7 linked regions of the Homo sapiens genome follow. The protein of the gene in region 2 purifies or fractionates together with the protein of the main gene of each other region. This does not show direct contact. Each region holds a gene or a part of one and is shown on either strand. Other genes may lie near its edges. The genes, in order: HRNR, TRIM6, FOXO3, MYH7, DEFB126, ABCF1 and MYH6.

The links.
Region 1: the proteins of TRIM6 (region 2) and HRNR purify together in Homo sapiens (affinity purification with mass spectrometry, with the first as the bait; one large-scale study listed by BioGRID). This does not show direct contact.
Region 3: the proteins of TRIM6 (region 2) and FOXO3 purify together in Homo sapiens (affinity purification with western blotting; one study listed by BioGRID). This does not show direct contact.
Region 4: the proteins of TRIM6 (region 2) and MYH7 purify together in Homo sapiens (affinity purification with mass spectrometry, with the first as the bait; one large-scale study listed by BioGRID). This does not show direct contact.
Region 5: the proteins of TRIM6 (region 2) and DEFB126 purify together in Homo sapiens (affinity purification with mass spectrometry, with the first as the bait; one large-scale study listed by BioGRID). This does not show direct contact.
Region 6: the proteins of TRIM6 (region 2) and ABCF1 purify together in Homo sapiens (affinity purification with mass spectrometry, with the first as the bait; one large-scale study listed by BioGRID). This does not show direct contact.
Region 7: the proteins of TRIM6 (region 2) and MYH6 purify together in Homo sapiens (affinity purification with mass spectrometry, with the first as the bait; one large-scale study listed by BioGRID). This does not show direct contact.

Annotation. Positions count from the first base shown.
Region 1 is NC_000001.11:152,214,194-152,217,693, forward strand, and holds part of HRNR (hornerin), read right to left. Parts: coding exon 1-3,500. UniProt on the Homo sapiens protein: Component of the epidermal cornified cell envelopes.
Region 2 is NC_000011.10:5,599,637-5,603,136, reverse strand, and holds part of TRIM6 (tripartite motif-containing protein 6), read right to left. Parts: intron 1-3,500.
Region 3 is NC_000006.12:108,679,417-108,682,916, reverse strand, and holds part of FOXO3 (forkhead box protein O3), read right to left. Parts: intron 3,091-3,500; coding exon of another isoform or gene 3,004-3,090; 3' UTR 1-3,003. UniProt on the Homo sapiens protein: Transcriptional activator that recognizes and binds to the DNA sequence 5'-[AG]TAAA[TC]A-3' and regulates different processes, such as apoptosis and autophagy.
Region 4 is NC_000014.9:23,418,661-23,422,160, reverse strand, and holds part of MYH7 (myosin-7), read left to right. Parts: intron 1-1,112; coding exon 1,113-1,203; intron 1,204-1,926; coding exon 1,927-2,316; intron 2,317-2,551; coding exon 2,552-2,678; intron 2,679-2,865; coding exon 2,866-2,984; intron 2,985-3,500. UniProt on the Homo sapiens protein: Myosins are actin-based motor molecules with ATPase activity essential for muscle contraction. Forms regular bipolar thick filaments that, together with actin thin filaments, constitute the fundamental contractile unit of skeletal and cardiac muscle.
Region 5 is NC_000020.11:141,345-145,389, reverse strand, and holds the start of DEFB126 (beta-defensin 126 isoform 1 preproprotein), read right to left. Parts: upstream 2,801-4,045; 5' UTR 2,762-2,800; coding exon 2,704-2,761; intron 1-2,703.
Region 6 is NC_000006.12:30,577,942-30,581,441, reverse strand, and holds part of ABCF1 (ATP-binding cassette sub-family F member 1), read right to left. Parts: intron 3,367-3,500; coding exon 3,240-3,366; intron 3,095-3,239; coding exon 3,057-3,094; intron 2,973-3,056; coding exon 2,865-2,972; intron 1,512-2,864; coding exon 1,437-1,511; intron 1,037-1,436; coding exon 923-1,036; intron 1-922. UniProt on the Homo sapiens protein: Isoform 2 is required for efficient Cap- and IRES-mediated mRNA translation initiation. Isoform 2 is not involved in the ribosome biogenesis.
Region 7 is NC_000014.9:23,387,774-23,391,273, forward strand, and holds part of MYH6 (myosin-6), read right to left. Parts: intron 2,674-3,500; coding exon 2,284-2,673; intron 1,947-2,283; coding exon 1,820-1,946; intron 1,739-1,819; coding exon 1,620-1,738; intron 1,283-1,619; coding exon 1,086-1,282; intron 894-1,085; exon of another isoform or gene 823-893; intron 566-822; coding exon 382-565; intron 151-381; coding exon 1-150. UniProt on the Homo sapiens protein: Muscle contraction.

The sequences.
Region 1 (3,500 bases), on a different chromosome or scaffold from region 2:
TAGATCCATGTTGACCGTAGCCAGAGGACTGTCCTGAGCGAGACTCTCGGTGACCTAAGCCAGAAGAGTGACCGGAGCCAGACTCATATGGGCCACGGCTGGAAGACCACCCTGAGCCAGACCCATATGGGCTGTAGCTGGAAGACTGCCCAGAACCAGACCCATGTCGGCCACGGCTAGGGCTAGGAGACTGGCCAGATCCAGACCCATGTTGGCCGTGGCCCAAAGACTGACGGGAGCCAGACCCATGCTGACCATAGCTGGAAGATGAACCTGAGCTAGATCCGTGTCGTTCACCCCTAGATGACTGTCCTGACCTAGAGCCGTGTTGTTCGTAGCTGGAGGAGTGACCTGAGCCAGATCCATGCTGAGTGTAACCAGAGGACTGCCATGAGCTAGACTCGTGGTGACCAAATCCAGAAGACTGACCTGAGCCAGACCCATGTCGGCCACTGCTGGAAGACCAACCGGAGCCAGACCCATGTTGGCCGTAGCTGGAAGAGTGCCCGGAACCGGACCCATGTCGGCCGCGACTAGGAGACTGGCCAGATCCAGAGCCCTGTTGGCCATAGCTAGAAGACTGACTTGAGCCAGAGCCATGCTGACCGTGGCTGGAAGACTGACCTGTGCTAGATCCCTCCTGGTCAAAGGTTGATGACTGTCCTGATGTAGAACCATGCTGTCCTTGGCTACAGAAGTGCCCTGAGCCACTACCATGCTGACTGTAAGCAGAGGAATGTCCTGAGCCAGACTCATGTTGACCAAAGACAGAAGAGTGACCCGAGCGAGACTCATATGGGCCACGGCTGGAAGAACGACCTGAGCCAGACCCATGTTGGCCGTGGCTGGAGGAGTGCCCCGAACCGGACCCATGTCGGCCGCGGCTAGGGGAATGGCCAGATCCAGACCCTTGTCGGCCGTGGCCCGAAGACTGACGGGAGCCAGACCCATGCTGACCATAGCGGGAAGACGAACCTGAGCTAGATCCGTGTCGTTCACCCCTAGATGACTGTCCTGATCTAGAGCCGTGTTGTCCGTAGCCAGAGGAGTGACCTGAGCCAGACCCATGCTGACTGTAACTAGAGGACTGCCCTGAGCTAGACTCGTGGTGACCAAAGCCAGAAGACTCGCCTAAGCCAGGCCCATGTTGGCCACTGCTGGAAGACCGACCGGAGCCAGACCCATGTCGGCCATAGCTGGGAGACTGCCTTGACCCAGACCCACGCTGGCCGTGGCCTGGAGACTGGCCAGATCCAGAGCCCTGTCGGCCATAGCCAGAAGACTGACTTGAGCCAGAGCCATGCTGACCGTGGCTGGAAGACTGACCTGAGCTAGCTCCATGTTGGCCACAGCTCGATGACTGTCCTGATGCAGAACCATGTTGCCCATGGGTAGAGGAATGACCTGAGCTAGATCCATGTTGACCGTAGCCAGAGGACTGTCCTGAGCGAGACTCTCGGTGACCTAAGCCAGAAGAGTGACCGGAGCCAGACTCATATGGGCCACGGCTGGAAGACCACCCTGAGCCAGACCCATATGGGCCGTAGCTGGAAGACTGCCCAGAACCAGACCCATGTCGGCCACGGCTAGGGCTAGGAGACTGGCCAGATCCAGACCCATGTTGGCCGTGGCCCAAAGACTGACGGGAGCCAGACCCATGCTGACCATAGCTGGAAGATGAACCTGAGCTAGATCCGTGTTGTTCACCCCTAGATGACTGTCCTGACCTAGAGCCGTGTTGTTCGTAGCTGGAGGAGTGACCTGAGCCAGATCCATGCTGAGTGTAACCAGAGGACTGCCATGAGCTAGACTCATGGTGACCAAATCCAGAAGACTGACCTGAGCCAGACCCATGTCGGCCACTGCTGGAAGACCAACCGGAGCCAGACCCATGTTGGCCGTAGCTGGAAGAGTGCCCGGAACCGGACCCATGTCGGCCGCGACTAGGAGACTGGCCAGATCCAGAGCCCTGTTGGCCATAGCTAGAAGACTGACTTGAGCCAGAGCCATGCTGACCGTGGCTGGAAGACTGACCTGTGCTAGATCCCTCCTGGTCAAAGGTTGATGACTGTCCTGATGTAGAACCATGCTGTCCTTGGCTACAGAAGTGCCCTGAGCCACTACCATGCTGACTGTAAGCAGAGGAATGTCCTGAGCCAGACTCATGTTGACCAAAGACAGAAGAGTGACCCGAGCGAGACTCATATGGGCCACGGCTGGAAGAACGACCTGAGCCAGACCCATGTTGGCCGTGGCTGGAGGAGTGCCCCAAACCGGACCCATGTCGGCCGCGGCTAGGGGACTGGCCAGATCCAGACCCTTGTCGGCCGTGGCCCGAAGACTGACGGGAGCCAGACCCATGCTGACCATAGCGGGAAGACGAACGTGAGCTAGATCCGTGTCGTTCACCCCTAGATGACTGTCCTGATCTAGAGCCGTGTTGTCCGTAGCCAGAGGAGTGACCTGAGCCAGACCCATGCTGACTGTAACTAGAGGACTGCCCTGAGCTAGACTCGTGGTGACCAAAGCCAGAAGACTCGCCTAAGCCAGACCCATGTTGGCCACTGCTGGAAGACCGACCGGAGCCAGACCCATGTCGGCCGTAGCTGGGAGACTGCCTTGACCCAGACCCACGCTGGCCGTGGCCTGGAGACTGGCCAGATCCAGAGCCCTGTCGGCCATAGCCAGAAGACTGACTTGAGCCAGAGCCATGCTGACCGTGGCTGGAAGACTGACCTGAGCTAGCTCCATGTTGGCCACAGCTCGATGACTGTCCTGATGTAGAACCATGTTGCCCATGGGTAGAGGAATGACCTGAGCTAGATCCATGTTGACCGTAGCCAGAGGACTGTCCTGAGCGAGACTCTCGGTGACCTAAGCCAGAAGAGTGACTGGAGCCAGACTCATATGGGCCACGGCTGGAAGACCACCCTGAGCCAGACCCATATGGGCTGTAGCTGGAAGACTGCCCAGAACCAGACCCATGTCGGCCACGGCTAGGGCTAGGAGACTGGCCAGATCCAGACCCATGTTGGCCGTGGCCCAAAGACTGACGGGAGCCAGACCCATGCTGACCATAGCTGGAAGATGAACCTGAGCTAGATCCGTGTCGTTCACCCCTAGATGACTGTCCTGACCTAGAGCCGTGTTGTTCGTAGCTGGAGGAGTGACCTGAGCCAGATCCATGCTGAGTGCAACCAGAGGACTGCCATGAGCTAGACTCGTGGTGACCAAATCCAGAAGACTGACCTGAGCCAGACCCATGTCGGCCACTGCTGGAAGACCAACCGGAGCCAGACCCATGTTGGCCGTAGCTGGAAGAGTGCCCAGAACCGGACCCATGTCGGCCGCGACTAGGAGACTGGCCAGATCCAGCCCCATGTCGGCCATAGCCAGAAGACTGACTGGAGCCAGAGCCACGGTGGCCATAGCTGGAAGACTGGCCTGTGCTAGATCCCTCCTGGTCAAAGGTTGATGACTGTCCTGATGTAGAACCATGC
Region 2 (3,500 bases):
GGCTTCTCATTCTCATATCCAATACGTTCTTTATCCCGGCTCATACAAGGCACCAATTTCTCCCCATATTAAAGCAGTGATAATTTCCTCTTGCTCCTATTGAATAGAGACAAACTGAGGCCCTGGAAAGGAGGGGCCTGTGTGAGTCACTGTCTGTGTGATCTTTTCTTTTTTTTCTTTTTTGAGATGGAGACTCACTCTGTCACCCAGGCTGGAATGCAGTGGTACAATCTCAGCTCACTGCAATCTCCGCCTCCCAGGTTCAAGCAATTCTCCTGCCTCAGCCTCCTGAGTAGCTGGGATTACAGGCACGTGCCACAACACCTGGCTAGTTTTTGTATTTTTAGTAGAGATGGAGTTTCACCATGTTAGCCAGGGTGGTCTTGAACTCCTGACCTTAAGTGATGCTCCTGCCTTGGCCTCTCACAGTGCTGGAATTACAGGCATGAGCCACCGCACCTGGAGACTGTGTGACCTTTTCTCACCCAAAACATATCCTCAATGTTAAAAGCACCTAAAACACACTGCTGCCTCAGGATTTTTGCATTTGTCGTTCGTGATGTAAAGATGACCCTTTACTCTGCTATCTGCATGACTTACTAGCTTCCTACCTATTCCCTTATCAGAAGGGTCTGCTCTGACTAGTCTATTTAGAGCACAGCCACCATACAATCACTCTCCACATATTCACCTCATTAGGGGGTCTTGCTCTGTCGCCCAGGCTGGAGTGCAGTGGCGTGATCTCGACTCACTGCAAGCTCCGCCTCCTGGGTTCAAGCCATTCTCCTGCCTCAGCCTCCCGAGTAGCTGGGATTACAGGTGCCTGCCACTATGTCCGGCTAATTTTTTTTGTATTTTTTAGTAGAGATGAGGTTTCACTGTGTTAGCCAGGATGGTCTCGATCTCCTGACCTCATGATCCGCCCGCCTTGGCCTCCCAAAGGGTTGGGACTACAGGCATGAGCCACTGCACCCGGTCTATTTTACTTCTTACACCACTTAATACAGATCTTTACTTGTTTGAATCCTCGCAGTGAAATGTAAGCTCCATGAGATCTGAGACTTTTTGTTCATGGTTGTATCTTCGGCAGCTAGCATAGAGCCTGACATATAGGTCCTCAACTTTGGATGAATGAGGGGGTCAGAACCCCCTCATCCTCTACAGTGATCATCTGTGACCTTTCCATGAGCTCTTTCACCTCTCTGCCATCACCTTTGCATCACTCTCTGGTATCTGATCTCTAAGACTGTGAAAACACTTCCACTTCTTAACGGCCCTGCTCCACATAGAGCCCTCTCACCACATGCTCGCCTTCTCAGAAAAAAACCAAAGAAACAGCAATGGCCACAATAAGGGGTGGTAATTTTTTTGTTGTTGTTGAAACTGAGTCTTGCTCTATCGCCCAGGCTGGAGGGCAGTGGCACTATCTCGGCTCACTGCAACCTCTGCCTCCCGGGTTCAAGCGATTCTCGTGCCTCAGCCTCCTGAGTAGCTGGGATTACAGGTGAGCGCCACCATGCCCAGCTAATTTTTGTATTTTTAGTAGAGACAGGGTTTTACCATGTTGGCCAGGCTGATCTCGAACTCCTGACCTCAAGTGATCTGCCTGCCTTGGCCTCCCAAAGTGCTGGGATTACAAGCGTGAGCCACTGCGCCCAGCCTGGGGAGGTAATATTTTTACAACTCATGATTCTGTAACCAGTTGTGATTTAGAAATCACATTCTCTTGCTTTCTTTATCCCTCATGGACAACTCTGCATAAATAAGAGTATTCTCCATTCTTTAATAAGAAGAGACATTAAGTGACTTTACACAATCATGCACCTTGTAAGTTGTAGAATTGGCATAACCTAACCTTTCCAGGGTGCTAGTTCAAAGCTTCGTCCTCAAACTCATAACTTTGACCAAAGACAGTCAGTGGTAAAGGCTGTGAAAGTCAGGCATGGACCAAGTGCTTTCGAAGTATGGAAATGAGAGAGATCCTATTTGATGATGGGATTTTGCCAGGGCCTGTCTTAAACTTCAGCAGGATCCTAAGGGGGTCCATATGTAAGGAGAGGTGGCCGGTAAGGCAGTTGAGACCTTATATCTTCATTGAGAAATATGACCTTTATTGTCTATTTTTCTTGGAAGAGTTGTTGATAAATTACGTTACCATTGTTTAAAATCACACTGAGAATACTCTTTAGAAAATTTTTAAAACTGTTTCCAGCACTGAGTTATTTTCACTGGGAGCCATTTGTTCTGCTTGTCTACCTGGAGTTGTGTTTGGGCCACCAAAGAAGAGCCAGCTAACACTGCCTATGTGAAGCTCTGGCCCTGGTTCCAGGCGTGACCTCGCTGTTCTGAACAGGCCACAGTGCGTAGGGAGCAGGCAGAATTCTCTAACTTGTCTTTGGCTGGTTTCCCAGCAAAAGTAAATGTACACTGATGTAAAAAACAGTCCGTGTGGGCCTCAACACAAGGCCCTGTAAATTGTACCAATTTACCCCCATCTTGAGGACCTGGTGGATTTAAAAAGTATATCAAACTGCCTCCCAATAACAACACTCCCCTTAGAAGAAAGGGCCTGAGAAAGTGTCTCAGATAAGGGTAAGAAAAAGTCATGGGATGTAAGCATAAGCCTCCTAGCGGCCCTGCTGGGGGATCTAGCGAGCCGAAAACAGGTTCTTGGCGCTGCCATCTAGTGTTCTGTGGTGCTTCTGCAAGTACTAGCCTGGCTCTTCAGCTTTGCCATGCTTAGCAGCAGCGATGCTCACAGCAAATATCTACAGAAAGCCCATTAGGTATTCAGCAAGAATTTAATTATTTTGTACATAATAACTCAATAATTCCACATAACAACATTATGAATGTCCCTTAAATCTCATCTCATAGTTGTATAAACTGGTATTTAGTAGATCTTTCAAGTGGCGGGGCCGGTGTTGAATGCAGATACGCAGGCTGCAGAGCTGGAGCTCTTATTACTCCCTTATATTCCTCATCTCCATAAAGGGTGCAAAATATAATTAACAAATTAATGAACTCTGTGCATCTAACTGGTAGTACTAATTGGTGTTACAGACGTATTTACCTATCATCTGAGAGTCTGTTTAACCAAATTAATCACACCTGTGGGAACTGCACTATTATTTCCTTTGTTAATATCTCCTACCATACCCACATCATCTCACTTAGCACACTGCACTATAAGGCTCTATTGCCTTTGATAATAGAGGCAATAGAGGCTCTAGAGGCAATAGAGGCTCTATTTATCTTCCAGGTGCCCCAGACCTTAGCACTGCAGCTAACACAGGAAATGATCAATTAACTTTATAATGGATTGAAAATTATAGCTTACTGCTGAGCTTATAGTTGGCCTTGATGTTGGCACTAGAGTATAGAAATAAATGTGCTATCTTATCAAAGTGTTACTGTTAAAAAATAATTGTGTTGGCCGGGCGCGGTGGCCCAAGCCTGTAATCCCAGCACTTTGGGAGGCTGAGGCAGGCGGATCACAA
Region 3 (3,500 bases), on a different chromosome or scaffold from region 2:
GCATGTCATGTTTTCAACATTAGGTACTCTTCTAATTTCTCATCAAAAAGTAGGCGGCTCCCTAGAGCAGCTTATTTAGAGGCCAAGGGTGGCCTCGGATAGTTCTCATCATAAATCAAACATTACAGCTGCCAGGCCCCTTGAGGCTAAGCATTCTGCTGATATGCTCCAGATCAGAAAATTATTGTTAGGGACCTGTGACACTCACTCAGAATGTGACATGGTGGCCAACGGCTGGCCTGTCCTGAAAGCAGGGTCTCAACATAAGGGGCAGAGGGCTCTGGCAGCACCCCTGCCCACTTCAGAACCAGGCTAGTCTCTGGGGCCCTGGCCTCTCTGCAGGTGGCTGAGGGTGAGGGTGCCGGGACCCTAGACAGGCTTCACTACCAGATTCTCGGCTGACCCTCTCCAGGGGCTGGTGGGTCTCGCAGTACTGATGCTGCACTTGACTTTACCCTGGTCTCAGCTCTCCACAACACTCTACATGTAGATGCTGTTTTAGTTACTTGAAAAAGAAAAAACAAAACAAAACAAAAAACCAAAGCATTCCCTCTTCATTCTCCTGATCTGTTTTGTGCTGCCTTGCCCTTGTACCTTCTCTGTCCCTTCCTCAGCTGTTTCAGATTAAATGATAATCTGGTTCTAGGACATTCTGTAAGACATTCTGCCTGAAATTCAACAAACGCTAGAAAAGGAGAATAAATGAGATACCATGTCTGAAAAGAATTCAACATTTTAAAGTTGAAACACATTGGAGGGTTGCCTTTCTCACTCCCAAAGCAGCTCCCAGGGTCTGTAAAACTGCAAAGGTAAGTAGCTATTTTGTTAGTCACTTTGCATGTTTCTCTGAACTCAGAAGTTCTCAGGACCCTAATGCTGGAAGCACTCTGGAATTCTCCTATCCCCCCACCCTTTTACATCTCGCTCCCCACTCTAGCCCCCATGCTACTAGTGCCTCTGCAATGCATCCCCACACAGGGCAGCATCCCTTAGGAAGCTTGGAGAGGCAACCCTCCTTCACTGCTACTGGAAAGTTCTTGCATACAGCACATTACTAAAGAATCCAGGAAGTGGCTAGCATTATTATAAAGGAATATAGTAAGCAAGTCTGGCTCACTGACAAGCAGACCATATGAATAGAATACATACTTAAAAAAATTACACATACTTTAAAAATGAAGATTATAAACATGTAGCAGTTTAGAAAAGGCAATGTGCTACAGTCTACTATAACCACAATTGCACAACAATTTACAGATTCAGTAAAAGGCAGGGTGAAATCAACAGGGCCATCGCTCAAACATGGCAACCCAAGCGAGGCAGGAGACGTGTGACAATACCAAATGGAACTCTCATTATGCTAGGAGCTGTGATCACCACCAATATCACCCCCAGAGGAGTTATAAAGCCAAGGCGCACAAGGGGGCCCCTGGTGGCCGGTGGTGTGTGCAGGGGGTTGGGTGGCACGTCTGTGTTGGTGCCCACTGTCACGGTGCAAGCATCAGCAAGAACTCAAGCAGGGAAGTCTGTGCTGAAATACTAGCCTGTATTCCTAAGGCCCATGCATAAGGTTCCATTTTTGTACTGTACATGATAAAATATATTTATACATTTATATGCCTAATGCTTTTTATGCAAAGAAAAGAGTCTTCATATATCACTTTGGAGAAGTATGCATATACTGTGCTAATCAGAGCATCGTTATACCAATTTCTTATGTACCAAAGGTGGTCCCAACTATTCCGTCTACCAAAGAAGGTAACGAATATAATCACACTTTCCAGGTTAAACAGAAAGCACCTATACAGCACCATAACTTTTTGAAAACACAACAAAATGAAATCCATAGAAGCAGAAAAAAAAGTTAAAACTGCCCTATTTTGTACTTCCATTGAGTCACTTGTACAATTACAACCTAAGCTTATATTTAAAAAATCAGTTTGTATGCTATTGCCTCTCACTCATACACTTCTAGCAGATCAGATTATATAGCAAGGCTGAAAATAATCAAGGATGTGTATTTAGGAAAACAGTGAAGTTAGAACTGCCTCAGCATTGACTTGGGTTTTTACTCTTCGCACATTTCTCACTGCAAGCTTAATGCTCACCTGTAAGTTCATTTGTTCTGCAAAGCAAAACAGGACTTTTTTGTTTTTTTTTTTTTTCCTTTTCTTTCTCCTTAAAACTAAACCCTTTAGTGACATTTGGCAATGAGTGGAGAGCTGAGCTGATTTCTTTCCTGAAAATATCAATATTCTAGTTTCTAACCAGCAGACCAACACTGTTCACATTAGCTGAGGACACTGACAGGAAATCACAGGCCCTACTGATCTGGCACCCGTAGACTTGGTGCTGGGGTCCCGTCCACAGATCACCCTGACTCAGAACCGGAAACACACTGGGCCGGACGCTGTGCTCCACTCCTTTTGCCTATGCACGGTTCTGTCCTGGACGGGTGCACATAGCAAACAATTGTGCCATTGTTCAGTTTTTAGAAAAGGATAATTTTCTACCAAACAAAAGAAGAAAGAAAATCCCCCTTTAGTTTATGTAATTTGTTAGTTTATGGAGTTCCATGCGCTCAAAAGCTTGTGATGCTCGAACCCGGAATGGTAACTGGTACAACATTTTCTTTCTGTTTTTAAATTTGCTAGGGGAAGGACGGTTAACATTTTAACAGAAAAATACCGCAAGTTAATGCATGTGAAAAACTCAGAAAGTCAAAGGAAAACAAACACAAGAACAACACTTAAAACGTCCCATAAACCATCGCAATATTAAAACACCACAGAATGGCCGACGGGGGCTCACGGTGTGCTCTGAATGAGGGTGGGTGGTGCTGAGGGGTGCTGTCCTCCACTGGCAGGCGGCTCACCACCCTGTACAAGGAAGATTTTGCATACTTTTTAGAGTTCTGTTCCAAGGGTAAGTGCTTCACCCAGGGTAAGGGGCCATTAACAGTCTCTGCTGGGTTAGGAAAATGGCGTGGGATTCACAAAGGTGTTAAGCTGTAAACGGTATCACTGTCCACTTGCTGAGAGCAGATTTGGCAAAGGGTTTTCTCTGTAGGTCTTGTGTCAGTTTGAGGGTCTAAAGGAGGAGAAAAGAAAACCAGAGATCATTAAGGGCACTGCAACAGCAATAGTGGGCACCTGAGGGCCACCTGTCAAGGCCTTCCATCTCCCTCACCCACCTCAGAGCCCAGGGCTAGCACAGCAAAGCTGCTCTGCTACACCAGTTTCAAAGGTCTGAAATCCTAAGGACAAAGCACAAAGATTACTTACCTTATTTCTCATGTTGTCCTTATTACAAAATGCTCTGAAGTTGAAAAGCCCAAAGGGAATGGGATCATTCACTTTGGGAGATAAAGAAAGCCATATTAGGGGTGTTTTGGTGGGTCCTTTTTAGTTAGATGTTCAAGGTGCAGATAAGATTCTGTTCTAGACTTCCGGACTGAGGGATTTCCTAGGACATGGGACTTTCCATGCTAAAACAAGGAG
Region 4 (3,500 bases), on a different chromosome or scaffold from region 2:
CTGCCCTTCCTCCTCCCCAGCCCATAACAGTACAAGCAGACCCAAGACAGCCATCCTCTGAGGCAACAACCTCACGCAGCCTCCACAAGTGGAGGCGCAAACCATGGGAAAAGGCCTCCCAGGCAAGGGCTTTCCTCCCCTAGTCCCAGATATCAGGGTTAGTTAGATGGTCCTCCCTGGCAAAAAGTCCATTGTATCCCATGAGTCCTTTCTTCTTGTTAGGCACTCAGTGGGAATGAAAATAACAGCCTTCCCCCTTCATACACATCTCTCTTTGGAGACCAGTTCCTTGACATGGAGGAAGGCTCCACATGAGAGCCTCTTAGGAAAGTCCCTTTGTGGCTTTTCACAGAGAGCCCACAGGGCACCAAGAAATGCCCTCACATTAAAGAAGTCAGGGGATCAGGGCCATTTCTTTGTTTTGCTTAACTTGTGGTTCCAATTCTTAGTGTAAGTTCTTCCAAAATGTATAGACTTTCCAGACTTGGTAAACAGTGAGCTTGCAGAACATATTTTGATAATTGAAGGTCTTATGGTGTTTCAGGCTCAGGACTTTGAAAGGCTTTGAGAATCATCATAATCTACATCCTCATCAAGTTTGTGTTTGCACAGGAATCTTCATACCTTCCCAGGCACAGAATGTGTTGAATAAATGAATAAATACACGATCCTATTTGATTCTCAAAACACCTTTTAAGGATGGTATCTTTAATTTCACTTTACCAAAGAGGAAAATAAGTTTCAGAAAGGTTAGCTGAGTTACCCAAAGCAATAGTGACAAAATTAAAGACCATCAGAGCTAAAAAGGACCTTTGAAACAATCTAGTCCGACCCCCTCATTTTACATTATGAGAAAACAAGGACCAAAGATGGGAATGTCCTGTAGAGCCCAGGCCCCATCACCCTGTCTACAGCACTCCTCCCATTACATTCTTGTTGGATTTCAATCTCACCGCAGGTGTTACACTTCCAGGGATCCTACATCACCCCCAGAAGCTGTTTTTCTAATGAAATCCTACTCTTTACCTGTATCATTACCATTTTCAACCACTGGTGGACCCTCCTGAGGCCCCACGAGTCTCCCTTACCTCACCATCCCTCCTTCCCCACAGAAAAGACTTTGAGCTGAATGCTCTCAACGCAAGGATTGAGGATGAACAGGCCCTCGGCAGCCAGCTGCAGAAGAAGCTCAAGGAGCTTCAGGTGAGGTCTGGACACCCACGCGGGATGCTGAGTCCCTGGGCTGGTTCTGTTTCCCCTGCCCCCTCCTCTAGGGTGTCCTGTTCACAGCATTACAGGAACTGATTATGTGTCCATGGAGGCAGGCACGCAGCTATCACAGTGTGCCCATGGATACATCCAAAAGGGGTCAGGTGATCCACAGAGACCCTGAAAAGGTCACAGGCCTGGAGGGCAGAATTCCTGGCTTCCTGTCTCAGCTCTGCCTTAGTTGGGTGACCTCTGGGAGCCCACTCCAGATCTCTGGGTCTCCATGCCCTCCCCTGTTACATGGAGGTTTTTAAGAGTCCTTCGACTCTGATGGCATGACTTTCCTCCTTACTCTAGAGCAGAAGCTGTGTTAGGTCTTTAGTTGTCTGGTCAGACAAATACGGCTCTCTCATTTTCAACTTTTGTTATTTTTTTATGACTAAACTGCTTAAAATATCCCCAGAACACAGGTCTCTTTGTCCATCTTTAAGAGCAAGTTTCAACCACTTTCCTTCCAATAAAGAGCATGTAGACTGTCAGGCCCTCGCCTAAAGGAAGGCTCTTCAAACTATCTTCCCCAAATCCTTTAATTCCCACCTCTCCACTGGAAGAGCTAAACTGACTTGCTGTTCCAGAGAAGCCGAGAGCCTTTTAGAGCCGGGGGGATTCCAGTGGAGGGGTCCAGGCGGTGGGTCTGAGCCCTTTGTGTCTGACCAGGCACGCATCGAGGAGCTGGAGGAGGAGCTGGAGGCCGAGCGCACCGCCAGGGCTAAGGTGGAGAAGCTGCGCTCAGACCTGTCTCGGGAGCTGGAGGAGATCAGCGAGCGGCTGGAAGAGGCCGGCGGGGCCACGTCCGTGCAGATCGAGATGAACAAGAAGCGCGAGGCCGAGTTCCAGAAGATGCGGCGGGACCTGGAGGAGGCCACGCTGCAGCACGAGGCCACTGCCGCGGCCCTGCGCAAGAAGCACGCCGACAGCGTGGCCGAGCTGGGCGAGCAGATCGACAACCTGCAGCGGGTGAAGCAGAAGCTGGAGAAGGAGAAGAGCGAGTTCAAGCTGGAGCTGGATGACGTCACCTCCAACATGGAGCAGATCATCAAGGCCAAGGCAGGCTCTGCTCGGCCTCCCCTCCTCCAACTTCCTCCTCCCACCTCCCCTTTCTGTCCATGTAGTGTCTCTTCCTTCATGGTTCATTTTCCCACTTCCCTTCCTCTGCCTGGTTCTCAGATCCCCTCCTTCTTTTCACACCTTCCCTCTTCTTTTCTCCTTCAGTTGCACCTCTTACACCCCTTCATTCCCCCCGCCCCCAACATCCATCATATAACTCTCCTTCCCTTCTCAGGCTAACCTGGAGAAGATGTGCCGGACCTTGGAAGACCAGATGAATGAGCACCGGAGCAAGGCGGAGGAGACCCAGCGTTCTGTCAACGACCTCACCAGCCAGCGGGCCAAGTTGCAAACCGAGAATGGTGAGCCTAGAGCAGGGGCTCCATGGTTCCCACCACAGTCTCCCCAACCTCCTGAGCCACTCCAGCCTCGGGCACAAGCCAATACACGCACACACAGACACAGAGTCTCTCCAGAAAATGGGGCCTGAGGGCTAGAGGAGGAGGTGGGGATAGAGAGGAGTGCTGATCTAGAATGGTGCTTCCCCAGGTGAGCTGTCCCGGCAGCTGGATGAGAAGGAGGCACTGATCTCCCAGCTGACCCGAGGCAAGCTCACCTACACCCAGCAGCTGGAGGACCTCAAGAGGCAGCTGGAGGAGGAGGTTAAGGTAAGGGCTAGACTCGGGCCACCTGGCCCAAGCAAGGAGCACACTGACTAGCCTTGCATCAAATCACTTCCCTTCCCAGCAATAAGGCTGGCTGTGGACCAACAGTTCTCCAAGAATTCTAAAAAGAAATCACAGCCCAAACCCTGCCACATGCCATCTACTCCCCAGGCTGAGGCCCTCTGCTTCTGCTGCATCCCTGGACGGGAGGCAGGGTGTGAGAAGGAGGAGAGAAAATGAACTAGGGAGGCACGAGATGGCCTTGCCCGGGCACGGCTAGGGGATGTAGGGACTGCACAAATGGGTCCTGGGATTTGCAGGGCCACCTGAAAACTGGAGAAAGAAATTCAACTGGAGCCTATTCCTAGCACTTTGCTGGACTCATGAAAAAGGAGAAAGAACATGATTTTTAAAAAACTCCAGGGTTCATACTAACCTGCCTCTTATAGCTCAGTGATCTTAGGTTAGGGAAGTCCCCTAACCTTTCTGAGCCTGTTTCCCTCTCCCCAGCCAGGTAAA
Region 5 (4,045 bases), on a different chromosome or scaffold from region 2:
TTAAGCCTAAGTATTTATCACAGGAGGATAAAAAATAGCAATAGTTTTTGAGCACTGTTTATTCAAGTGCCTTTCCAGTTGCTTTAGCATGTTTTTCCTAATCATAAATACCTACTTTGAGGATTAAGTGAAATTTTATAAACACACATAGAATTCTTTAGATATGTATGAGATTCTCATTTCTGAAATCAGAATTCTGTATACAAACACTTACCAGGGGCCAATTCCCCATGATTTTAAATGGGAAAATATATAGCATGTTGTTATACATGAACACAAAATCCCCAAGCAATTTCCTAAAATGTAGCTAAAACACAAACACCTAAACAGAAGTAAAAACTATCATTTCAAAAATAAGAAATGCTAAAATAATTGCTGTCATCTTTCTCACCATTACTGAAACACATATGGCTTTTGTTGCCAATTGGTGAGATTTTCAAAATGTCCCTTACATGTTTCTGAGATCCTAAAAATTATATTTAGAAGATAACTCTAGGCTTATCTTACATATTATCTGGTTAAAAATGTCATGTCAAGTTATGGAAAGATAAATAAAAAATTTTCATCTATACCTATATACCTATATGATATTGAGATATAAGTACATTTTACAAAATTTTGAGAATAAAAAAAGCCATTCCATTAGGAATATATTCATTAGGGAGACATTCTGCAGGGTTTGCCTATATATGTGTACATATTATATACATATGAAAATATCTCATCACATGGTTTAACACATAGAGGCCCTAGAGTGACGCTGGAGCTCTTTCTTACCTTGCTTAACTCATTACTGTACTTAATCAACAAGTATATGATGAGTGCCTACCATGTCAAGAATTCTGCAAGATGCAGGGAATAAAACAATGAACAGAAAGACATGATTTGAGGACCTTACATTGGAGAGGGGGAGAAAGAAAATAAACAAGTAAATGAATAAACAAAATAACTACAGATTGTGATAAGTACAATAAATGAAAGAAATATGAGGTAATTGACAGTAAGTGAACAGAGCAAACGTTTTTGAATGCTATTACCACTACTATTATCCCTTATCAGCTGTTTAATCCTCCTCTGATGATTGAGTTTTTAACATTATATATATGTATATGTTAGAATATATATACACACACACAAAGTGTAGAAAAAGGACAACATACAAGTATGTGATGTATGTCGATGTATGTCACTAATGTTCCAGAGACAGAGGGAGAAATCAGGCAATTTAAACTCATAGAATTTCAAGGATGCAATAGGCCTGAAACATCTTTTGAGACAACCATGAGAGCATTATAATTTCCTCTTATCCACTATCAATTTGAACATTTCTGCAAATTAGGGAATATAAACTACTATCTCTAGAGGCGGGCTATGGAGTTATTATATAACCCATTAGGAAATTATACTAAAGAATATTAGTTTATTTCATTGTGCCTTATGTAAAAAGGTGGGATTGAGTCCGGTGTAAAAAACAAAATCATAGGTGAATAACTGTTCTCAACACGGAGAAGGACTTACTAAGTTAGTGGAAGAATGCAAAGAAAACACCAATAGATTTGACATGAAAATGAAAATTATGTGTCTCAAATAAATAATGCATTTTAGAAGCAACCAATATGTTTGAAAATATTTGCAAGAAATATGAAATACAAATGTTAAAAATACAAATACTCCAATAGTAACCATTGGCAATATGTGCCAGTTAACTTAGAAGAAATAATACCCTTGTACCAAGCAATGGAACTTCTAAAATTTACCTATACAAACAGAGAATCTCACAATGATATATTAATAAGGTTGTACAATGTTATTTACAGTACTCACACATTAGAAAAAATAATCCAAATGACACACAATTAAGGACTTTCCAAGTTAATATTGGTACAAAAATATGACAGAATTATAAGCATCTACTGCAAATTGTATTTTCAAGGAATATTCAAGACCTGTGAAAATTTTCCTGATAGAATCGTAGGTAAAAAAATAAAGCAGGTTATAAGCTCATATATCAGTTGGTTACAAGTGAAAAAATGCAAGCAGTGATGAAATGTGGCCAATTTATTTCTAAATAACTTTCAGTGTTCTTGTCTTGGTTTTGTAAATATAAGCTACAGAATAAATTAAAAATAAGAAATGCTTACACAAACAGAGCTGAAATCTGATATAGACTTCCAATAGTTCCCACACAGAATTTTTTTTTTCATTTTCCATTTTACAGTCCTATACATATATAGAAACAGCCTTTCCTGTTCTGTTAACCACATCCAAGAACAAACAAACAAACAAAAAATCAGAGACCTCTCTGTAAGACCAAGAAAACTGGGGGAAGTAATATTATATAATTGTTACCTCAGGAGGGAATATCGGCAGCAAAAAAAACAAAAGTGAAATGAGGCAGGGCTTGACTGGACTGACCCGAAGTGACAGGATAGAAGTTTGGGATTTCAAGATCATTTCTACCTTTGGAGGCAACTGTATGGGATTTGCCTTACCCTCCTCCCCAGCTCCGATCACAGATCCTGCTCTATCCTGAGAGCCTTCAAGTTTCTTAGAACAGAGGTGGTCTGAAGAAGTAGGACAAATCTCAGCCCTGCTCCCAGTGAGAAGCCAGACCCCATTTCCACAGACCACTTAGAAACAGGGACTCCATGTGCAGGACCCTGTTCCAGGCCAGTGTTTCTTCTTCCCCAAGATTCTGTTTACCTGAGACCAATTGGGCCAGGAGCATAAAAACTGCAAGGGTGAACAGTAGGGACTTCATCAGGAGGCAGTGGGTTCTATAGAGTCCAGAAGTCTCTATTCAGTATGACTCTGAACACAGATCTTTATTGTCCTTCTTAGGTGGGGTTGGGCTCAGCCAGTAGATCGGGAGGATGTAGGATATTGTGCCAACATAGCTTCAATCTATTGGCTAGCAACTCTAATTGAGGCATCACTGTTCAAGAGTCCTGTGCTAGGCATGCCTTGGGGGAAGGATAAAGACTTAGAAGAGAAGTTGCAAACTCTGCTGAAGTGTATGGCAATTTGGAGAGAAAGAATTACAGGAAGAAATTATGCTGCTCTACCAAGGCTGGGTGCTCCTAGCAGTTTTTTCACAGCCTCCAGTGTTAGTTCTATCAGGGTTCATCTTACTGCATGTAGCAGTCTGGTCACCTGCCTGTCTCTCCACCTAAAATACAATGTCTTTCTGAACACTTATGATGTATTATTCATATATATATATAATTCTTTTCTGTACATCATTCTTTTCAGAGAAGGATATAAGCAATTGTTTTTTAACTGACCAAATTAATGCTTTGTTGATGATCTGGAAATTTAGAAAGCCTTTTACAAAGAAATAAATAAGTGCTCAAAGATAAATGCACAAAGAAGTCTTGTCACTCTGTAGAGTAGCATAAAACGAAGTGCATCCATATGATTTAATTCTGTGCTTCTGTTAAAAAGAGTGCAGCAGATTTTATCTTACTAAACATTTTTTGAGTGAAAAAGCAACATTTTAGAACAACATGCATAGCAATGATTCTAATTTATGTGAAAAAGCTATATTTATGTGTATATAAGTAAATGCATGAACTAAAAATGCAAATCACATGTCATTCTAATAAAAGTTGTTTTCTCTGGATGGGATTGAGTTTAAGGTGGCATTCAAAGAGAATTTTATTGTGTTAAAGTTTTTTTTTGAGTGCCTGACTATATTGTGACTGAAAGCTATCAGGTCCTAGAGGTTTTGTTCTTTGTGAGGAGTTTTTTTTTTTCATTCCAAATTATTGAGATATAATTGATGTACATTAAACTGCATTATTTAGAGTGTATAATTTGATGAACTTGGCAAAAGATGCACTGGTGAAACCATTACCTTAATCAACATAATGTATATATCCTTCACTCTCAAAATGTTTCTCATTCCTCTTTGGCATCCACTCTTTCCTCTTCCCTTCCCTCCCTCTACCTCCATGATACCCAGGCAACGACTGACCTGCTATTTGTTCTTGTAGCTTTCTTGGCATTCTCTTGAATATTACATAAATGAAGTAATATAGCATGT
Region 6 (3,500 bases), on a different chromosome or scaffold from region 2:
ACGGAGTGAGACTCCATCTCAAAAAAAAAAAAAAAAAAAAAAAGATCAGGAAGCTCTAGTGCACAGTCAGAGGAATCCAGCAGAATCACAGAATTAGGAAGTGCCAGACGCATAGGGACCCTAGAGATCTCCGGACTCCTCCTTCTATCACACAAAGGAGACAAGTGAGACCCAAGGGGATGGGAAGATGTATTCAAGGTCACACAGCCAGTGAAGGCAGAGCCAGGACCCAGATCATCTGAGATAAATTCCAGGCCCTTTCTTCACTGGATTAGGTGTTGCAAACTACAGCCCATGGGCCAAGGCTGACCTGACATTTATTTTTATATAGCTCCTGAACTTTATAAAAATAATTTTTGTATTTTCAAAGAGTTGTTAAAAAAAAAAAAGAATATGTGATAGAGATTGTATGTGGCCTGCAAAGCCAAAAACATTTACTATATGGCCCTTTATAGAAAAAGTTTGCTGGCTGGCATGCTGGCTCACACCTGTAAACCCAGCATTTTGGGAGGCTGAGGCAGGAGGACTGCTTGAGCCCAGAAATTCAAGACCAGCCTGAGCAACATAGTGAGACCTCATCTCTATACTAAAAATAAAAAAATTAGCCAGGGGTAGTGGTGCACACTTGTAGTCCCAGCTACTCAGTAGGCTGAGGCAGGAGAATCTGTTGAGCCCAGGAGGTTGAGGCTTCAGTGAGCCGTGTTCACACCACTGCACTCCAGCCTGAGTGACAGAGTAAGATCCTGTGTAAACAAAAACAAAAACAAAAACAAACGAACCACCACCCCAACTACTCCCCCAAAAAAAGAAAAGAATAAAGGTTTGCTGGGATAATAACTATATCCCCAGATTCTAACTCTCCCATAAGGACCCTGGAAGCCCTAGTCCCTCATTCCACCTTGCCCCAACACCAAATACACACCTGCTCTGCCTTCTTGGCCTTCTCCTTCCCTTGTTTGGGAGGCTCCTTTTCCTTTATAATTTCTTCTTCTTTATCCTCCTCTTCATTGTCCAGAGCAGCGAATTTATTTTGAGGCTAATAGGGAAAAGACAGGTCTGATGAAATGTTTTTTTTTTTTTTCTTTTTTTTTTTTTGAGACGGAGTCTCGCTCTGTCACCCAGGCTGGAGTGCAGTGGCGCAATCTCGGCTCACTGCAAGCTCCACCTCCCGGGTTCACGCCATTCTCCTGCCTCAGCCTCCCGAGTAGCTGGGACTACAGGCGCCCGCCACCACGCCCGGCTAATTTTTTTTGTATTTTTAGTAGAGACGGGGTTTTACCGTGTTACCAGGATGGTCTCGATCTCCTGACCTCGTGATCCGCCCACCTCGGCCTCCCAAAGTGCTGGGATTACAGGCGTGAGCCACCGCGCCCAGCCCTGATGAAATGTTTTAATTCCTGGGCCCCAATACCTCCTCCTGCTAGTTACTCTCTCACCTTAGCCTTCCCTTTTGACTTCTCTTCCTTTCCCTTTTTGCCCTTGAGTGCAGGCTGCTGTTCCTCAGATACGGCCTGGAGGAGACACACATACACATTACACACATACATACAAATTATTGTGCTACTTTGCTGTGTAATAAGCATTTCTAGAGAGTCTACTGTGTTAACCATACACATGCTCCTCCATTTACGACAGGTTGCATCCCGATAAACCCACCAGAAACTTAAATAAAAAATGATAGTTCTTGGCCGGGCGTGGTGGCTCACACCTGTAATCCCAGCACTTTGGGAGGCCAAGGCAGGTGGATCACAAGGTCAAGAGATCGAGACCATCCTGGTCAACATGGTGAAACCCTGTCTCTACTAAAAACACAAAAATTAGCTGGGCGTGGTGGCACGTGCCTGTAATCTCAGCTACTCAGGAAGCTGAGGCAGGAGAATCACTTGAACCCGGGAGGCGGAGGTTGCAGTGAGCCAGGATTACGCCACTGCACTCCAGCCTGGCAACAGAGTGAGACTCCGTCTCAAAAAAAAAAAAAAAAAAAAATAGTTCCAACTTATGATGGGTTTATCTGGATATAATCCCATCATGAGTTGAGGAGTACCCTAAATGAGTATGACTTTCACACCATCATAAAGTAGAAAAATCGTACACCGAAGCAGAAGTTGGAGACCATCTGTATTGAGTGCTGCTGACGAAAAATGAGACCCAGAAAAACCCTACCCTCCAGCTTCAGACTAGATAGCGAAGAGATAACTAGGGAACGTCAGCAAGGCTAAGGATTATAAGTCAGGCAAGTGCGCCACCAGAGTGAGTGGCACTAGCACTGGAGGCTTTCTCAAGAGCTCAAATGGACATGGACTAAGATGCACACGCAGAAGAGTCACAAGTAGAAGAGCAAGGACCTGGGGCTTTGTTTCAGGTTCTGTGCTTAAAGCAACAGAATCACTGTAGATTTCTGAGTGATAAAAATGGCATGGTTTTTTTTGTTGTTTTTTTTTTGAGACTGAGTCTTGCTCTGTTGCCCAGGCTGGAGTGCAGTGCCTCAATCTCAGCTCACTGCAAATTCCACCTCCCAAGTTCAAGTGATTCTCCTGCCTCAGCCTTCCAAGTAGCTGGGATTACAGGCGCACGCCACCACGCCTGGCTAATTTTTGTATTTTTAGTAGAGATGAGGTTTCGCCATGTTGGTCAGGCTGGTCTCGATCTCTTGACCTCGTGATTCGCCCACCTCGGCCTCCCAAAGTGCTGGGATTACAGGCGTGACCCACTGTGCCCAGCCTGGGCATGTATTCTAAAAAGATGATTTTAACAGTATAAGTAAGACAGACCGAGAAGAGCTAGTTTAAAAGCGGGAAATTACTCCACCATGGCCAGAAGGTGCTAAATGGAGTGAGAGTGACTGATCGAGCCACCACTGTCACCTTATTGATCCGATTCTTCTCCGGCTTGGCAGGCTTAGGAGGATGTTTTTCTTCCTCCTCCTCTTCCTCACTCTGATCCTGAATCAGGGCTGCAAAAACATTACCACCCTAGAGAATGAAAGGGCCACAGAAGTCAGTAGGATGGTCAAGGTTGCATCCTTGGAGTCTCCGTTTACCACACAGATGGCTTACCTTGGTTTTCTTCCCTCCGCGGGGTTTTGGGGCGGGTACTGAAATGACAGGGGGAGAACATGAGATAGGAAAGAATTACAATGTCTGGCCCCCCAATTGAATCCAACTTGAAGATCAGGGTATGAGGTATCACTCTCCATGACTCATGGATTCCAGGTACCCATTCCCCCTCAGGTCATTTACCTTCATCCTCCTCATCACTGGTTGGCACTGAGAGCTTCTTAAGACGCTCCATGAGCTCTTTCTCTTCTCCATCATCATCCACATCCTTCTTCCGCCTGCCTTTTCGGGTATCTCGCTTTTTTTTTTGCTGCTGAGAGCAAAAGAACAGTGAGAAAATGAAGCCCAGGCCCCTGCTGTATTTCTGCCTCACAGAGGGTTCCCCATCAGCTGAATGGAGCAACATGGGCTGGAAAGGGGTTGGTGGAACCCAGATGCCTCCCA
Region 7 (3,500 bases), on a different chromosome or scaffold from region 2:
CTCCCGCTTGAAGGTCTCTAGGTGCTCCAGGGACTCCTCGTAGGCGTTCTTGAGCTTGAAGAGCTCTGTGCTGAGGGAGCGAGCCTCCTTCTGTGAGGACTCCAGCTCAGACTGCGACTCCTCATACTTCTGCTTCCACTCGGCCAGGATCTGCCCGGGGACAAGGCTCACTCTTCAGCCCCCCAGCCTTAGCTCCCCAGCCCTCCTGCTTCCCAGTGCCCCAGCCCCCAGCCTCAGCCGCATGTCCAAGATCTGTCCCTGGTCCCGAGCCTGGGCTTAGCCCTCCTCCTCCACCTCCAAGGAGGTTGCCTTTGGCCTCTCACTGAACCCCTCATGCCCCCTTGCCCTGCATGCTGGCTGCGGCCCCCGCCCATGGTCCACCTTGTCAAAGTTTCTCTGCTTCTTGTCCAGGGCTGCAGCAGCAGCATTGGAGCGCTCTACGTCCACCATCAAGTCCTCTATCTCATTCTGTAGCCGGTGCTTGGTCTTCTCCAGTGAGGAGCACTTGGCATTAACAGCCTCCACGGCCTCCTCGGCATCCTGCAGCCGCTGGGCCAGCTTCTTTCTGCCCAGGTGAGGGTGGAGGGTGTGTGTGTGACTCTACTGGGCAACACTGGAGCCTTGGGTGGACCTCCTTCCACCCCCTCCCTATATCTCCTTGAGACACCGTAAGTCCAGCCTAGCAGGAGCTGAGCCTGCTCATGCCTGGAACAGAGTCCGCCAGCACGGGCTGCCCAGGCGTCCTCCCTACCTGCAGTGGCATCTGGGTGTCAGTGCCCCCTGCCCTCACCCCCCACACAGGCTGATCGACGGTAGCTCCTCTGACCAACAAGCTTTTTGCTCGTCTTATACGTGAGCATCAGGTATAACCCGGGCCAAAAGCTCGCCCGTCACAGGAAGTGGGTCAGGGCCAGCCAGAGTTCACAGAGCAAAGAGTTCAGGCTTTCTTCCAAGCACTTCTGTTGCCCTCCGAGTTCCTCCTGTCTCTTCCACTTCCGTCTCATGACCACTTTGCCTGTCCCCACCCCAGGTCCTCTCGCCCCTTCCTCTCTGAGAGTCAGGTTAAGGGGGTATCTGGAGCTCACTTGGCCTCTTCGAGCTCCTCAGTCCGCTGAATGGCGTCCGTCTCATACTTGGTCCTCCACTGGGCCACCTCCGAGTTGGCCTTGGACAGGACGCGCTGCAGCTCGGCCTTGGCCTCTGTCTCCTCCTCGTACTGCTCCCGCAGCAGGTCGCAGTCATGCCGGGCCGACTGCAGTGCATGGGCCAGGGCGTTCTTCGCCTGGGGAGGGGGGGGGGCACCAGGAGGTGGGAGGGACTCCCTGTGCCCCATTCTCTAGATTCTCTTCTTATGTAGTACTTCAACCAAGCCCAGCCTTATTCACCATGTGGGCTGATGTGGCACCTCACTGTTTGAGGAGTTTCCCAGTCTGCTCACCCCATCCCCTTACGAATAAGAAAAGAGGCATTAAATGACGCTTAGCTGCAGGGCAGAACCTAGACTGGAGGGTCTTTCCCTTGCAGAGGACTCTTTCCAGCTCCAGGCTCCATTTCTGGCACTGAGATGAATTGCCCCAGGGCTGCCATCAAGCCTGCCCACCCTCCCCACTGGGCCTCACCTTGCCCTCCTCCTCCAGCTGCCTTTTGAGGTCCTCCATTTGCTGGGTATAAGAGAGCTTCCCCCGGGTCAGCTGCGAGATTAGCGCCTCCTTTTCCTCTAGCTGCCGGGCCAACTCTCCTGGAGGTGAAATGAGGGGCTTGTGGGCCATTTCACAAGTCATGTCCTGCCCTAGGCAGGGGGTTGGTTAGGGGCACCCACCATTCTCGGTCTGCAGCTTGGCTCGCTGGGTGGTGAAATCATTGAGGGAGCGTTGGGCCTCTTCTAGCTTCACGCGGTACTCATTGGCCTGGTCCTCCAGCGTCCGAGACACTTTCTCCAGGTTTGCCTTCAGGAAGCAAGACAGGAAGGGTGAGTGTGGGAGGGGCTGAGTCGACCAGAGGAAGGAAGAGAGGGTCAGAGATGGGGAATGCCAGAGGGCAGGAGGGGGACACAGAAGGTGTGGGAGGGCGCAGTCTGAAGAGAGACTTGAATTAAAGAAAGGAGGAACATGAAGAGATAGAGAGGGTGAGGAGAGCCAGAGAGGGGCAGGGGAGACAGGAAGAGAGACCAAAGGGTGATGAAGAGAATGAGAATGACAAGGGAGATGGCAGACAGAGAGAGAAGGCATGGGGGAGGCTCCGCTGTGCAGGGGAGAGGGCGAGGGGAGGCCGAGCAGAGCCTGCCTTGGCCTTGATGATCTGCTCCATGTTGGAGGTGACGTCATCCAGCTCCAGCTTGAACTCGCTCTTCTCCTTCTCCAGCTTCTGCTTCACCCGCTGCAGGTTGTCGATCTGCTCGCCCAGCTCGGCCACGCTGTCGGCGTGCTTCTTGCGCAGGGCCGCGGCAGTGGCCTCGTGCTGCAGCGTGGCCTCCTCCAGGTCCCGCCGCATCTTCTGGAACTCGGCCTCGCGCTTCTTGTTCATCTCGATCTGCACGGACGTGGCCCCGCCGGCCTCTTCCAGCCGCTCGCTGATCTCCTCCAGCTCCCGAGACAGGTCTGAGCGCAGCTTCTCCACCTTAGCCCTGGCGGTGCGCTCGGCCTCCAGCTCCTCCTCCAGCTCCTCGATGCGTGCCTGGGTCAGACACAAAGGGCTCAGACCCACCGCCTGGACCCCTCCACTGGAATCCCCCCGGCTCTGAAAAGCTACCAGGAACTTAGGTTCCTCTCAAGCAGTGGTTCTCAACTAGGGGCAATTTTGTGCCCCAGGGAACAGTTGGCAATGTCTGATTGTCATGTCTTGGTGGGGCTTGCTACTGGCATCTAGAGGGTAGGGGCCAGGGATGCTACTAAACATCCTATAATGCATAGGCCATCAATAGGAATTTGGCTGAAGCTCCCAAGGGCATCTCAGACCCAGTGTGAGCATCTGCAGCCCCAAATCCTGAGAACCTGTGGTTGAAGGGGGATCCTGGTATCCTGTGAGATCAAGAAGTTCAGAGTCCCCAGATTCACTAGGCTCTGTTGCGCTATTCATAAGACGGGAAAATGAGTGCTTGTATTTTACAAATATTTGTGACAACATGCCTCGAAACAATCAGATACCTTTGCAATTCTCCAAGTTAACCACAAAGTCCAATCAACCATATTCCTTGCTCTCCCAGGCTTGCTGTGTTTATGCCCAGGGCTGGGTTTCAACATGATTGCTCCCTTCCAGGCCAGGAAAGTGCTAGCAGGCTACTCTCCTCTTCACCTCATCTCCTTATCCTCTTTAAGTGCCCTTACCTCATTTTTTGGGCCTTAGCCTTGGTCTTGACTAAATTGGGAGAATATCGTATCTACCATTTTGATCTGTTGTCTGGCTAGCCAGGAGCAAAACGGGGGTTCAGTGGAAATCCCTTCACCTCGGGTTATGGACAGCTTTAATGGACTGTTCATGGATGGGTCCTACAAGCAGCAGAG